Linked DNA regions of Homo sapiens. The protein of the gene in region 1 purifies or fractionates together with the protein of each later gene. This does not show direct contact. Each region holds a gene or a part of one and is shown on either strand. Other genes may lie near its edges. The genes, in order: OR1A2 and EMC8.

What was found.
Region 2: the proteins of OR1A2 (region 1) and EMC8 purify together in Homo sapiens (affinity purification with mass spectrometry; one large-scale study listed by BioGRID and IntAct). This does not show direct contact.

The regions. Positions count from the first base shown.
Region 1 is NC_000017.11:3,196,002-3,199,234, reverse strand, and holds OR1A2 (olfactory receptor 1A2), read right to left. Parts: upstream 1,717-3,233; coding exon 787-1,716; downstream 1-786. UniProt on the Homo sapiens protein: Odorant receptor.
Region 2 is NC_000016.10:85,786,045-85,789,544, forward strand, and holds part of EMC8 (ER membrane protein complex subunit 8), read right to left. Parts: intron 3,007-3,500; coding exon 2,930-3,006; intron 425-2,929; coding exon of another isoform or gene 327-424; exon of another isoform or gene 248-326; coding exon of another isoform or gene 213-247; exon of another isoform or gene 179-212; intron 1-178. UniProt on the Homo sapiens protein: Part of the endoplasmic reticulum membrane protein complex (EMC) that enables the energy-independent insertion into endoplasmic reticulum membranes of newly synthesized membrane proteins.

The DNA.
Region 1 (3,233 bases):
AGGTATCTTCTTCATGCCGTTGGTAATCTGTGGGTGGCATCAGCATCTGCCTTTTCACTATTTAGTCTCTTTCAGGATACACCTATGTAGCCAATTCTCTGTATCAAATCTTCTTGGTATAAATATACCAAGTGTGATTTCTGTTTCCTGCATGGATCTTAACTGACCTTAACAGACATACCAGCTCTATAATACATGAATGAATACTATGCAGTTTGATTATGTTTATTCATTATCAGATTGTATTTCAGAAACTAATATTTTTATACATTTTCCTGCTTTCCACCAATATTTTATATGATCAAAATACTAAAAAAGTAAGTGATATGTTAACACAGCTTTTGCCACCAGAGTACAAGTATAGTAGGGGTGGCTAGACATAAAAGTCCAGTAAAGATTACATTAGAATAGTAATTTGCAGCCTTCAAAGCATGAGCCATTTTGATATACACAAGCTGTGTCAGAGAGTCCGGCAGATATTATTTTCCTAACATGTAGATATGCAAGCTGAGACTCAGACTTTTTCAACTTTACTCTGCTAGTAAATTTCTGCTAACTGGGACATGAACCTGATATTCCCAGCCTGCCACTCTCTCAAAAAAGAGCAGGAATTTGTCCAAAGTGATAATTTCAATAAAATATCACATCCGTTACAAGATTTCTGGTAGAGGAATTTCTGGCTCAAAAGAACAAAAGGAGCTTCTTGAAGGGCAATGACATTGGAGCTGGATTTCCAAGTGTATCCCACTTGGTCATTACAGTATCCAGCGTGTAATCTCACAGCGGCTATGAGGAGATTCTCTTGCTGAAGAGTTTCTGTAGGGCTGCCTTCATATCCCAATTTCTCAGACTATAGATGAAAGGATTTAATGCTGGGGTCACTGCCACATACATCACAGTTATCACTGCATCTTTGGGGCTGTAACTGGTCAGAGGGCGGAAATACATGCCCATCGTTGTACCATAATATAAAAAAACAACTGTGAGGTGGGAGCCACAGGTGCAGAAGGCTTTGAATAGACTCTTGGTAGATGGAACTTGGAAGACTGTGGAAAAGACCTGAACATAGGAGACAATGATGCATAGTAATGGCAAAGAGAAAACGCCGACCCCTAGGTACATCATCTTCACATTAAAGTGGACGTCAGAACAGGACAACTTCAGCAAAGGCATAATGTCACAGTAGAAATTGGCTACTTCCTGGTTGCCACAGAAGGACAAACTAGCTGTGAGCAGAGTGTGGGGGAGAGCACTGGTGTTTCCAATCACCCAAGACCCAGCAATAAGCAGGATACAAGACCGTGGACTCATAATTGTTGTGTAATGAAGTGGGCAGCTGATGGCCACAGCTCGATCGTATGCCATTGCAGCCAAGGTATAGCTGTCTGCCTTGGCCAAGGCTATCATGAAATACATCTGCATTAGGCATCCCCCAAAGGAGATGAACTTGCTCCCCAAGAGATGGTTGGCCAGCACCTTAGGGATGGTTACGGATGAGAAGATGATGTCAACCAAGGAGAGGTTGGCAAGGAGAAAATACATGGGGTTGTGAAGGCGAATGTCAGCACAGATGGCCAAGATGATGAGCAGATTTCCAGTCAGTGTGATGGGGTAAATGCACAAAAAAATCACAAAGAAGACATTATTCTGTTCTTGCTGACTAGTAACTCCCAGGAGAATAAAATCCAGGTTAAAGGATTGATTTTCTTTCTTCATGGCTTCTTCAGCATGAAAGGGGAGAGGAACCCAGAATTATTAGCGCAGTTAGTGTGTGTTATAGTCTGCCTTATCTACCACTTAAACGTTTTTAATTATTTTACAAATTCACCTGCTGTCAAACTTATCCACCACTTTTCATTAGCCATGGCTATACCTGGTTTTTACAATCATAAATATAGCCAGCACTTTTGGGTAAAATCTCTGTTGGTCAATGGGACGAACTCTCATTGACCTCCTGGACACTCATGTCAAAGAAGTTAGCGATCTGTGAAGTAAAGATGGTTGTCCTTCCAAATGTAGCACCACCACCTTAATATCTATAATTTAATCACATAACAAAAACCTAATTTCATGTTTCATGTCTTAGATTTTTTTTTACTTTGTAGAGAAACAATAAATATGTGAAAATACAGTTATTCATCCACTTATTTGTTACACAAGACATAGCATCTGTTCTCAAGGACCTTATAATTGAATAGGAAAGCCAGACTCACACAATAATTTTATTACACATGGTAAGAAAAGGATAGCCTCTTGGAGTCCTTGTGAAAAAAACAAACAAAAAATCCTCCAGTGCAAAGGATGTATCATAGTAGGAATGCAGTGAACAATTTAAAGTTGTTCCTCCAACCAGTCTCGGGGTGAGCCCAGAGCCCAGGAAGTCAGAGGTGTCTACACTGCCATCAGATTCTAAAACAGAAAGACAACTGGCATTAGGTCCTAGAAAAACAAGCTCAGTGAACTTACTCCACAGGTGTTCGATTTTCAAAGATATTCCCTATCTTTTTGACAGCTTTTCTCTCTTTTCAAAGCCCATAACTATACATAATCACAGTGCTTTTTCCACTGGCCTTTGTCTTGGTTCATTTTGTGTTGCTATAACAGAATACTTGAGACTGGGGAATTTATAAGAAAAGAGGTTGAATTGTCTCATGGATCTGTAGGCTGGGACATTCAAGAGCGTGGCCCTGGCTTCTGGCAAGGGCTTTCTTGCTGCATCATAACCTGTCAGAGAAGGTCAACAGGGAAGTGGATACAGGGGAAGAGAGAAAACCCGAGAAGTATACTGGTTTTATCACAACCCACTCCTGTAGGAACATTCCCTTAAGATTAATCCAGTCTTGAGAGAATGAGAACACACTTACTACCATGAGAACAGCACCAGACCACTCATGAGGGATCCACCCCCTTGACTCAAACGCTTCCCACTAGGCTTTACCTCCCAACACCTCCCACACTGGGGATCACATTTCAACATGAGTTTTGGTGAGGGCAAACTCAATCCATAGCAGTCTTCTCTTCCTTGTCTTCCTTATTTCTTTTTGTAGTAATCCAAGTCCACAGTGGATTCAACTATTCTTTAGTAAACTGTCATGTCTGTATCTGTGGTCTCGATTTCTTTTTCCCATATTTCCATATTCAGTCATCCTGCTAACATGTCTGACCAAACCCCACACTCTGCACTTAAAACCTAAGTAGTTTGCAAGATGTTTCTTTTCTTTTTTTTTTTTTTT
Region 2 (3,500 bases), on another chromosome or scaffold:
TAATAGAAAAAGTCATCACAGCACTAGTAACAGCACCAGCCACTACTGTAAACCAAGCACAAGGACAAACACACTGCGCAATTTCATTCTGTCCTCATGACTACTCTCTGAGGCATGAGCTCAGCTCCATTTTACAGACAGGGCCACAGAGGCCCAAGGAGGTTAATCAGTAAGTCACCTAGAATTTGAATCCAGGTCTACTTGGCTCCAAATCATGCTGCAAGACACTGTGAATGAGGCAATATTTCTAGAATAAGAAGAGCAAATTTTCAGCTAGGTCTGGCTGAAGAGAGGGGAAGGTTTTCCAGGCAGAAGCAAAACCATACTTAAGTCAGAAGTTGGCATGATCCTAGCTCCTGAGCTCCCAAGCTGTGTGGCCTCTGAGAAGCCACCTTCTCCGGCTGGTTTCTTCACTTGTGCATTGCTGTGAGGATGAAATAAAATGACCCCGATAGAGCCCAGGGATAGCACGGCATTACCTACCTGAGGTGTCCTCCTCAAACAACTGGGCACAGCGGGGGAGGGGGAGGTGGATTCCCTATTCCAGGGTGGCAGACTCCTAGCTAAGGTTTATCCTCTCTACACATCTGACAAATGGCTGCTCCGGATGCATTTAAAAGTCAGTATTAATGAAGGACTGCAAAACCTCCTGGAGGACGCAGAAGGACGTGGACTAGGTGAGGATAGGGAGGACATTCTAGAAGGAAGGTATGGAGAGCAGGAAAACTGTGTCCGAGTAGGATAATTCCAGGCTGGGCTGTAACGAGGTCAGCACAGAGGTAAGAACATGAGAGCTGTGAGCCAGATGAGGCATGCGCAGAGAGGAGCATAGGAGAGCCTGCGCAGGTCCATGTGGGGCGACCACATCAGGCATGGATTTGCAGGTGGGGGATTAAGGAAAGGGAGGCCCCTGCCCTCATCTGACAACCTGGTGCCATTCCCACTTGCCCAGTCTCCTCTCCCTTCTGCAGGGACAGCCACGGCAGACACTGCTTGGTCCAGGAACACCTTCCTGCCAAGGGTGCTCCCCACTGCTTGCAAGGTGAAGTTCAAAATGCTTCTGAGCACAGAGGAGCCCTCAGCTGTGGCCCAACCTACCTGTGCAGCCTCACTTCCTAGCATCTCCCTCCATGTGGGCACGGCCCCAGCCCTTGCCACGTCCTCACCTGTGTCTGCTGTCCCCCCAACCAGGAATGCTGACCTCCTGGTCTCCACGTCTGCACTTGACAAGGCCCTGCTCACTCTCGAGGGCCTGGTTTACAGGACACCATGCCCTGGACTTCTGGGATCATCCTACCAGGTCTAAGTCTCCCGGCCCCTGCCACCAAGCCCCCTGCAGGGGCCGCTGTCCTGCACCACAGCCTGTGTTTGCACTGTCCTTCATGTTCAACTCAGCCACGTGAGGGCAAGGGCCAGAGGGCTGCGCTTTCCTCAGCCCACGCCTAGTCTTTCATGTAACAAAGACTAAGATGGATGTGGCCCCGTGGGTAGGCTCTCGCTCAGTGAAGGCACTGAGAGGGGAGGCACTGATTCATCAACAAAGGGAGGCAGGCGATATCAAACAGAGGACATCCCAGTGAGAGTCAGAAGAGATGCGCTGAAGGCGGAGAGGCCAGTGCTGCTCGTGGGCTCAGAGGAAGCAGCAGAAGAGCCAATGTGCATGGGGATTCCACGCACTCCCAACCGCCTTGGCAGAGGCTTCAGCGGACTGACTTTGAGTGCAGCATCTCCTAGGACATCTGCCTCCCTCAGGATCCTGTGCCTGGACCCAGCCCTCCTAGGGTAAGATAATTATGTTTCTAAATTTGGGTTTCTTTTAGGATACCATGTTTCTCATCAGAAACACTGGTGCCTCATCAGTGATAGCAATGCTGTCACCAGCTTACTGTATTATTTCCAAAGTGCTTGAGCTCACCTTCTCATCTGTGCTGAGCAAGTGGACCCAACGGCAGGGCCCTTCACTGCACCCCCATCTCCCTGGACACTGGAGGGTCGGCTCTATCTGACAACATGAGGAAGCCACGTCAGGGCAGCCTGACGCATGCCCGTTATATACGGCGTGGACTTTCCAGCTGCCCATCTGGCTTCTGGCTCGGTTCAGCCAAAGGAAAATGGAAGGGGGACATCATGTACTGACTGCTCTGGGCCACCTCTCCCCTAATGGGAGGCCACGTCAGGCTGGCTGTGGCCACCTGCCCAAGGGCACTGCTTTTCTCAAGGTGGACTTGTTTACCCAGCTCCTTCCTCCCCACCCTTTGGGCTGTTGTCGCCAGCCTTGTTTACAGCACGACCCCCTGTGCGTTATCTACGGCCCAGGCCTTGTCAACAGCCTGCTTATTAAGCCCTCCTCAGATTATCACCACCTGAGTGTGTCATCTGTTTTTCTGTTGGGACCAAGATGACGCAGACATATAGAAAAATTCTCAGCTTTGTTATTAGCGAGAGCCCCAGTTGGGGAAGGATCTGGATAAAGGAAAAGAAAGAAGGAGCCAGTATAAAGGGGGCAGCAAATACCACATTTTCATCAGAGTACTGACCCCAAACCTACAGGCTGGTCTATTTACCGGCAAATAGAGCAACATTCCTTCCCAGTGCTCTGCCCAACACCACCCCTAGTCTGGGAAGGGGAAGCAAGGCAGAGCTGAGCAGGGACAGAAGTCGGAAGCCAACTGTCGCTTTCATTGTATGAATTCCCTTCATGCAAAATAAAGAAGACACAAAACAGAATTCCAAAGTTAATAGAAATGTTTGGAATTTCTGTTGTTTGGAATTATCCACACCACAGTTCGCCTCAAATACTACAAATAAGCACAGAGGGAAGGGGTGTAGGTCTCACAGGTTTCGTATCTGGCCGAAAAGCACACGAGAGACGGGGTCTGCCCAACACGTGCTCACTTCCTCGCCCACAGAGGGTTCTGCATCCACGTACCTGGCATCCTTTACTCGCTCATTAGCTTGATAATAACCAGCAATCACGTAGCTATGATCTTTGCACCATGAATCAATCTGAAAGAGGAACAAAAATTGGGAAAAGATGAATGACTCTCCCTTAAATATCAAGTCGTAAAAACCACAGATCTCACTGCCACATGCTGGGACAAGACATGACAGAATCTTAATCCTCATACCCTACACCCCAGAAGAAAGGGTAGGACTCAGGAAAAAATGGTCAGGAAGGGCAGGACTTTGAACATAAGGAATGACTATCTTCCTCAGTCCCAGCGAGAAGACCCTTTGTCTACAGGTACTGGATTGGTACAGTGCTGCAGAGAGTCAGAGGGAAGATGACCTTCACCTACCTTCTCTTATACTATAAAGAACTGGGGCTTTAGAAATGCTTAAAATTATTTAAATCATTATCCTTCATAGTTAAGGAAACAAAGCTTAGAGAGGTTCTAAGTTTGCACAACCAGATAGAAACAGAGCCAGAAGGGAATCTCAGTCTCTTTCAAAACAAGTCTTTTAGGCCAGGCACAGTGGCTCACACCTGTAATCCCAGC